Linked DNA regions of Homo sapiens: region 2 is linked to region 1. The links come from fine-mapping of genetic effects on gene expression. A gene starts in region 1. The other region holds a variant in brackets. All regions are shown on one strand. Distances are between the middles of the regions.

What was found. PIP is the estimated chance that this variant, and not a neighbour inherited with it, causes the effect.
Region 2: its variant is the best candidate, but not a certain one, in a credible set for the expression of ZNF117 in stomach (GTEx, PIP 0.51).

Annotation. Positions count from the first base shown.
Region 1 is chr7:64,988,999-64,993,392 of GRCh38, reverse strand. ZNF117 (zinc finger protein 117) reads left to right here and starts at 2,357. Exons shown (of 4, transcript NM_015852.5): 1 at 2,357-3,446. The region is part of intron 1 of ERV3-1-ZNF117 (ERV3-1-ZNF117 readthrough); the gene reads left to right. ERV3-1 (endogenous retrovirus group 3 member 1, envelope) reads left to right here. Exons shown (of 2, transcript NM_001007253.4): 2 at 1-3,037. The coding sequence starts at 367. The coding sequence ends at 2,181.
Region 2 is chr7:64,965,569-64,969,962 of GRCh38, reverse strand. No RefSeq gene overlaps it. Among named protein-coding and RNA genes, the nearest start is that of ZNF117, 23 kb to the left of the region's middle. RefSeq lists a silencer at 465-665 and enhancers at 763-1,506, 1,507-2,250. The variant G/A (reference allele first, on the strand shown) is at 2,446.

The sequences.
Region 1 (4,394 bases):
CCATCCATCCAGTCAGCTGAAACCAGCAGCCCAGGACAAGTGGACCAGCCAACAGGACCTAGACCATGCAACCCAGCTGATCCTACGATGGAACCAAGGTGCCAGTGAGATGACAACAGCCCTGCTCTGGTCACTCCGGAAGCTGACCAGTCCACACACGGCTGAAGCTTGAGGAGACAACAGCCCTGCTCTAGTCACCCCAGAAGCTGACTAGTCTATGCACGGCCGAAGCTTGAGTCATCATCAGGGAAGTAAATGTGGTTAGAAATCTGAAGTCCAGTAATTTTCCTTGTCATATTAATTACTTTGCTATTAAGCTGTCACTTTGCTTAGCCTTCTCCCCCCAGGAAAAAGCCTTTTCTGTCCATGCTGGGTATGAACATGCTACTCATCACTTTGTTCTTGCTACTCCCCTTATCCATGTTAAAAGGAGAACCCTGGGAGGGATGCCTCCACTGCACCCACACTACGTGGTCGGGGAACATCATGACTAAAACCCTGTTGTATCACACTTATTATGAGTGTGCTGGGACCTGCCTAGGAACTTGTACTCACAACCAGACAACCTACTCAGTCTGTGACCCAGGAAGGGGCCAGCCTTATGTGTGTTATGACCCTAAGTCTTCACCTGGGACCTGGTTTGAAATTCATGTCGGGTCAAAGGAAGGGGATCTTCTAAACCAAACCAAGGTATTTCCCTCTGGCAAGGATGTCGTATCCTTATACTTTGATGTTTGCCAGATAGTATCCATGGGCTCACTCTTTCCCGTAATCTTCAGTTCCATGGAGTACTATAGTAGCTGCCATAAAAATAGGTATGCACACCCTGCTTGTTCCACCGATTCCCCAGTAACAACTTGCTGGGACTGCACAACGTGGTCCACTAACCAACAATCACTAGGGCCAATTATGCTTACCAAAATACCATTAGAACCAGATTGTAAAACAAGCACTTGCAATTCTGTAAATCTTACCATCTTAGAGCCAGATCAGCCCATATGGACAACAGGTTTAAAAGCACCGCTAGGGGCACGAGTCAGCGGTGAAGAAATTGGCCCAGGAGCCTATGTCTATCTATATATCATAAAGAAAACTCGGACCCGCTCAACCCAACAGTTCCGAGTTTTTGAGTCATTCTATGAGCATGTTAACCAGAAATTGCCTGAGCCCCCTCCCTTGGCCAGTAATTTATTCGCCCAACTGGCTGAAAACATAGCCAGCAGCCTGCACGTTGCTTCATGTTATGTCTGTGGGGGAATGAACATGGGAGACCAATGGCCATGGGAAGCAAGGGAACTAATGCCCCAAGATAATTTCACACTAACCGCCTCTTCCCTCGAACCTGCACCATCAAGTCAGAGCATCTGGTTCTTAAAAACCTCCATTATTGGAAAATTCTGTATTGCTCGCTGGGGAAAGGCCTTTACAGACCCAGTAGGAGAGTTAACTTGCCTAGGACAACAATATTACAACGAGACACTAGGAAAGACTTTATGGAGGGGCAAAAGCAATAATTCTGAATCACCACACCCAAGCCCATTCTCTCGTTTCCCATCTTTAAACCATTCTTGGTACCAACTTGAAGCTCCAAATACCTGGCAGGCACCCTCTGGCCTCTACTGGATCTGTGGGCCACAAGCATATCGACAACTGCCAGCTAAATGGTCAGGGGCCTGTGTACTGGGGACAATTAGGCCGTCCTTCTTCCTAATGCCCCTAAAACAGGGAGAAGCCTTAGGATACCCCATCTATGATGAAACTAAAAGGAAAAGCAAAAGAGGCATAACTATAGGAGATTGGAAGGACAATGAATGGCCTCCTGAAAGAATAATTCAATATTATGGCCCAGCCACCTGGGCAGAAGATGGAATGTGGGGATACCGCACCCCAGTTTACATGCTTAACCGCATTATAAGATTGCAGGCAGTACTAGAAATCATTACCAATGAAACTGCAGGGGCCTTGAATCTGCTTGCCCAGCAAGCCACAAAAATGAGAAATGTCATTTATCAAAATAGACTGGCCTTAGACTACCTCCTAGCCCAGGAAGAGGGAGTATGCGGAAAGTTCAACCTTACTAACTGCTGCCTGGAACTTGATGACGAAGGAAAGGTCATCAAAGAAATAACTGCTAAAATCCAAAAGTTAGCTCACATCCCAGTTCAGACTTGGAAAGGATAGTCTCCAGATTCCCTTTTCAGAGGTTGGTTCTCATCCCTTGGAGGATTTAAAACCTTAGTACAAATAGTCCTAGCCATATTGGGAGTTTGCCTTATACTCCCTTGTCTCTTACCCCTCATTGTCAAAAATATCCAAACAGCCATAGAGGCTCTTGTGGACAGACGGACTACCACACGACTAATGGCCCTAACTAAGTATTAACCCCTGCCAAGAAAAGAGCTACTTCCTCTTGAAGTAAATGAAGATAGTGATGCTTTCTCTTAAACTTTACTTATAAAAAGCATCAAAGGGGGGAATGAAGCAGGAAATATAAAAGGAAAAACAAGTAAAGGGAAAACAAGTCCTTTCCTGACCAGTCTGACTCACTCCAAAGTCCTGCTGGAGCTATGATAATTATCTGCAAGGCCAGGCAGGGGCTCCGAAGGAGTGGGCTCCAGGAGCAGGGATGAGAAAAACAAGTTCTCCTTATCAGTTTCCCTGTTTGAAATTCTCTCCCCATAACATTATTCTTTGTTCTGCTCTCACAACTATTTTTGTAACTATTTCTGCAAGTCTGTAAAGATTTTGTAAGTTCTTGTTTTTCTTTCTGTAGCATGGCAAGGTCACAAGACATGTTTAAGTAAGGTAGGCTCATGTTGCAAATCCTGTTGTAAAACCTGTCACGGTATGATTAACTGCCTTTGTTCTGCTTCTGTAAGACTGCTTTCTCACCTCGCAGGTTTTGCGCCAAAAACCCGACTTGCCCCTGCCTGATGCATGTATAAAAGTCAAGCCCTGTCTTTGTTCAGGGCTCAGCCTTTGGATGTTAATCCGCTGGGCCAGTGGCCACCTAAATAAAACCTTCCTGTTGCACCCAGTGATCTCTCCGGCCTCCTGATTCCCACAACATATAAGCATTCCTTTTTCTCTGCAACCTAGCCCGCATCTGTCATTGACTTTTTAACAATAGGCATTCTGACTGGATGAGATGGTATCTCACTGTGGTTTTTCTCTGCATTTTTCTAATAATTAACAACGTGAATTTTGTTTTCATATGCTTGTCAGCCACATGTATGTCTTCTTTTGAAAAGTATCTGTTCATGTTTTTGCTTACTTTTTAATTAGGTTTTTGGTTTTCTTTTTGTTGTTGTTGTTGTTTTCTGAGATGGAGTCTTGCTGTGTCACCAGGATGGAGTGCAGTGGCATGATCTCGACTCACTGCAACCTCCACCTCCCAGGTTCAGATGATTCTTCTGCTTCAGTCTCCTGAGTAGCTGGGATCACAGGTGCGTGACACAAAACCCAGCTAATTTTTGTATTTTTATTAGAGATGGGGTTTCACCATGTTGGCCAGGATGGTCTGGATCTCTTGACCTCATGATCCATCTGCCTCAGCTTCCCAAAGTGCTGGGATTACAAGCATGAGCCACAGATCCTGGCTTATTCTTCTTCTTCTTTTTTTTTAAAATAAATTTGTTTAAGTTTCTTATGGATGCTAGATTTTAGACCTTTGTCAGAAGCATAGTTTGCAAATATTTTCTTCTAGTCTGTAGGTTGTCTGTTTATTCAGTTGATTGTTTCCATTGCTGCAAAATAGCTCTTTAGTTTAATTAGGTCCCATTTGTCAATTTTTGCTTCTGTTGCAATTGCTTTTGGTATCTTCATCATAAAATCTTTGCCAGTTTTTATGTCTTAGAATTTTCTAGGTTATTTTCTAGATTATTTTCAGGTTTTATATATATATATATATATATATATATATATATATATATATATATATATATATATAATTTTAAGTTCTACATTTAAGTCTTTAATTCATCTTGAATTGATTTTTATATATCATGTAAGAAAGGCATCCAGTTTCAATCTTCTGCATAGTGCTAGCTAGTTATTCCAACCTCATTTATTAAATAGGGAATTCTTCCTGCATTGCTCTTGTAAGCTTTGTTGAAGATCAGATGGTTGCAGGTGTGTGGCATTGTGGCATTATTTATTGGCTATCTATTCTGTTTCTTGTTCTATGAGTCGTTTATATATATGTGTGTGTGTGTGTATATGTGTATATATGTGTGTGTGTGTGTGTATACATTGCCTTGGGTATTCGGGCTCTTTGTTAGTTCTATATGAATTTTAAAATAGTTGTTTTTAGTTCTGTTAAGAATGTTTTTGGTAGTTTGATAGGAATTACATTAGATCTGTAAATTTCTTTTGGCAGTATGGCCATTTTAATG
Region 2 (4,394 bases), 23 kb after region 1:
AATTTAGTTAAGACAACAAAAAAATCTATAGTTCAGTATGCCTGATGAACATTGAAACAAAAATCTTTCATGAAATACTAGTAAGCTGAGTTCATAAACAAATCAAAAAGTTATTTTGCCACAATCATGTGAGTTTCATTTCATGAATGCAAGGATGTTTTATCATATGCAAGTCAATAAGTGTGACTCACCATATAAAGATAATTAAAATGATTAAACCATATAATTATTACACTAGATGTGGAAAAATCATTAAAGGAAATTTAATGTTCATAAAAGTATTCTCAACATGCGACATACAAGGCATTGAAAAAAATACCTCACAATAATAAGAGCCATCCTCAGGCAACATTATCCTCAGGCAACATTATACTGAACAGGAAAAAGCTTGATGCATTCTTACAAATAAAAATAAGATCAATGTCCACTCTAAATATTCCTATTCAACATAGTTCTGGAAGTCCTAGCCAGAGCAATCCAACAAGATGAAAAAAGAAAAAGGCATCCAAATAAGAAAAGAGGAAGTCAAATTATCTTCACTGATGATATAATTCTCTACTTGAAAAACGTTAAAGATTTCTCCCAAAGACTCCCAAGCCTAAAAAATGATTCAGCAAAGTGTCAGGATACCAAATCAATGTACACAAATGACTGGCATTTCTATACACCTTGAATAACATTCAACACTTGAATAACATTTAAGCAGAGAACAAAATCAAGAACAGAGCTCTATTTAAAATAGCCACAAACAAAAAATAATATACCTAGGAATGGATTGACTCAAGGAGGTAAAATATCTTTAGAAGGAGAACTACAGTCTACTTTTTAAAAACTGTAATTCTCTCTCCCTCTCCCTCTCCCCACGGTCTCCCTCTCCCCACGGCCTCCCTCTCCCTCTCTTTCCACGGTCTCCCTCTGATGCCGAGCCAAAGCTGGACTGTACTGCTGCCATCTCGGCTCACTGCAACCTCCCTGCCTGACTCTCCTGCCTCAGCCTGCCGAGTGCCTGCGATTGCAGGCGCGCACTGCCACACCTGACTGGTTTTCGTATTTTTTTGGTGGAGACAGGGTTTCGCTGTGTTGGCCGGGCTGGTCTCCAGCTCCAAACCGCGAGTGATCCGCCAGCCTCGGCCTCCCAAGGTGCCAGGATGGCAGACGGAGTCGCGTTCACTCAGTGCTCAATGGTGACCAGGCTGGAGTGCAGTGGCGTGATCTCGGCTCGCTACAACCTCCACCTCCCAGCTGCCTGCCTTGGCCCCCCAAAGTGCCAAGATTGCAGCCTCTGCCCGGCCGCCACCCCGTCTGGGAAGTGAGGAGCGTCTCTGCCTGGCCGCCCATCGTCTGGGATGTGAGGAGCCTCTCTGCCTGGCTGCCCAGTCTGGAAAGTGAGGAGCGTCTCTGCCCGGCCGCCATCCCATCTAGGAAGTGAGGAGCGTCTCTGCCAGGCCGCCCATCGTCTGAGATGTGGGGAGCGCCTCTGCCCTGCTGCCCCGTGTGGGATGTGAGGAGCGTCTCTGCCCGGCCGCCCCATCTGAGAAGTGAGGAGACCCTCTGCCTGGCAACCGCCCCGTCTGAGAAGTGAGGAGCCCCTCCGCCCGGCAGCCACTCCGTCTGGGAAGTGAGGAGCGTCTCCGCCCGGCAGCCACCCCGTCTGGGAGGGAGGTGGGGGTCAGCCCCCCGCCCGGCCAGCCGTCCCATCCGGGAGGGAGGTGGGGGGGGTCATCCCCCCGCCCGGCCAGCCGCCCGTCCGGGAGGGAGGTGGGGGGGTCAGCCCCCCGCCTGGCCAGCCGCCCCGTCCAGGAGGTGAGGTGGGGGGGTCAGCCCCCGCCCGGCCAGCCGCCCCGTCCGGGAGGTGAGGGGCGCCTCTGCCCGGATGCCCCTACTGGGAAGTGAGGAGCCCCTCTGCCCGGCCAGCCACCCCGTCCGGGAGGGAGGTGGGGAGGTCAGCCCCCCGCCCGGCCAGCCGCCCCGTCCGGGAGGGAGGTGGGGGGGTCAGCCCCCCGCCCAGCCAGACGCCCCGTCCGGGAGGTGAGGGGCGCCTCTGCCCAGCCGCCCCTACTGGGAAGAGAGGAGCCCCTCTGCCCAGCCAGCCGCCCCGTCCGGGAAGGAGGTGGGGGGGTCAGCCCCCCGCCCGGCCAGCCGCCCTGTCCGGGAGGGAGGTGGGGGGGTCAGCCCCCCGCCCAGCCAGACGCCCCGTCCGGGAGGTGAGGGGCGCCTCTGCCCAGCCGCCCCTACTGGGAAGAGAGGAGCCCCTCTGCCCGGCCAGCCGCCCCGTCCGGGAAGGAGGTGGGGGGGGGGTCAGCCCCCACCCGGCCAGCCGCCCCATCCAGGAGGGAGGCGGGGAGGTCAGCCCCCAGCCCGGTCAGCCGCCCCGTCCGGGAGGGAGGCAGGGGGGTCAGCCCCCCGCCCGGCCAGGCGCCCCGTCCCGTCCGGGAGGTGAGGGGC[G/A]CCTCTGCCCGGCCGCCCCTACTGGGAAGTGAGGAGCCCCTCTGCCTGGCCACCACCCTGTCTGGGAGGTGTACTCAACAGCTCATTGAGAACGGGCCATGATGACAATGGTGGTTTTGTGGAATAGAAAGGGGGGAAAGGTGGGGAAAAGATTGAGAAATCGGATGGTTGCCGTGTCTGTGTAGAAAGAGGTAGACATGGGAGACTTTTCATTTTGTTCTGTACTAAGAAAAATTCTTCTGCCTTGGGATCCTGTTGATCTGTGACCTTACCCCCAACCCTGTGCTCTCTGAAACATGTGCTGTGTCCACTCAGGGTTGAATGGATTAAGGGTGGTGCAAGATGTGCTTTGTTAAACAGATGTTTGAAGGCAGCATGCTCGTTAAGAGTCATCACCACTCCCTAATCTCAAGTACCCAGGGACACAAACACTGCGGAAGGCCGCAGGGTCCTCTGCCTAGGAAAACCAGAGACCTTTGTTCACTTATCTGCTGACCTTCCCTCCACTATTGTCCTATGACCCTGCCAAATCCCCCTCTGCGAGAAACACCCAAGAATGATCAATAAAAAAAAAAAAAAAAAAAAAAGAACTACAAAACACTGCTGAAAGATATCAGGGACAACACATACAAATGGAAAACATTCCATGCTCATAGATTTGAAGAATCAATATAATTAAAATGTCCATGATGCCTAAAGCAACTTGTAAATTAAATGCTCTTTCTATCAAACTATCAATGCAATTTTTTGTAGAATTAAAAACAATGGTTTTAAATTCATATTGAATAAAAGAGCCCAAATAGCCAAGGCATCTTTAAACAAAATGAATAAACCTGGAAGCCTCACTTTACCTGACTTCAAACTGTACTACAAGTGGCAGTAACCAATATAGCATGGTTCTCGGACAAAAATAAACATGTAGACCAATGGAACAGAAGAGAGAGACTTGAAATAAAGCTACACTCCTACAACCAACTTATTTTTGACAAAGTCAACAGAAATAAAGGGGAAATAACTTTCCATCTGATAAATGGTACTGATAAATAATGGACTATATGGTTAGTCACATGCAGAAGAAAAAAACAACTCTTACCTCTCAGCATATAAAAAATGTAACTCAAGATAGATTAAAAACTGAACATGAAGTTTCAAGCTATGAAAATCCTATATGAACACCTAGAAAGTACTCTTGTGGACACTGGCCTCTGAAAACAATTTGAGACTAACACCTTAAAAGTAAATGCAACAAAAATATAAATTGACACCTAATTAAACTAGATCTCCTGCACAGCAAAAGAAATTTGACAAAGTAAATGGACAAGCTACAGCATGGAGAAAAATATTTGCAAACTGCATACAACAAAAAAATTAATATACAAAATCTATAAGAAATGTAATAGGAAAAAAGCACAGAATATATCAATAGATACTTCTCAAAGGAAGATATAAAAGCTGTCAAGAAACATGCAAAAAGTTGCCCAACATCTCAAGCCATTAAAGAGATTAAATCAAAATGACAATGTGATACCATCTCACACCAGTTAAAATGGCTGTTATTAAAAAGTAAAAAAAAAAATAGCATGTTGTGGAGAATAGGGAATGTTTACACAGTCTTTGTGAGAATGCAAATTAATTCAGCCTTTTGTTGATTAATTCAGCCTCTTGTTGGAGCCTCTACTTCAACAAAAGATGCCATGAATTTCAAGTTATTATGCTGACACATATATTGTCTCTAGAAGGGTTCTGGTTTTTTTGCAATCAAGGTGTAGCATTTCTGGCTTCCCTTGTGCTGCTTTGTTTGTGTGAAATAGGAAGGTAGGAAGTAAAACCAAGTAAACCATGACATTTCTATTTTCTACAGCCACAGCATCTGAATTCTAGTGTTATGTCAACTAGAAATAATGTCAGTATTTCAAAACTGACAAAAAGAAATTGATACTTTATCTTTT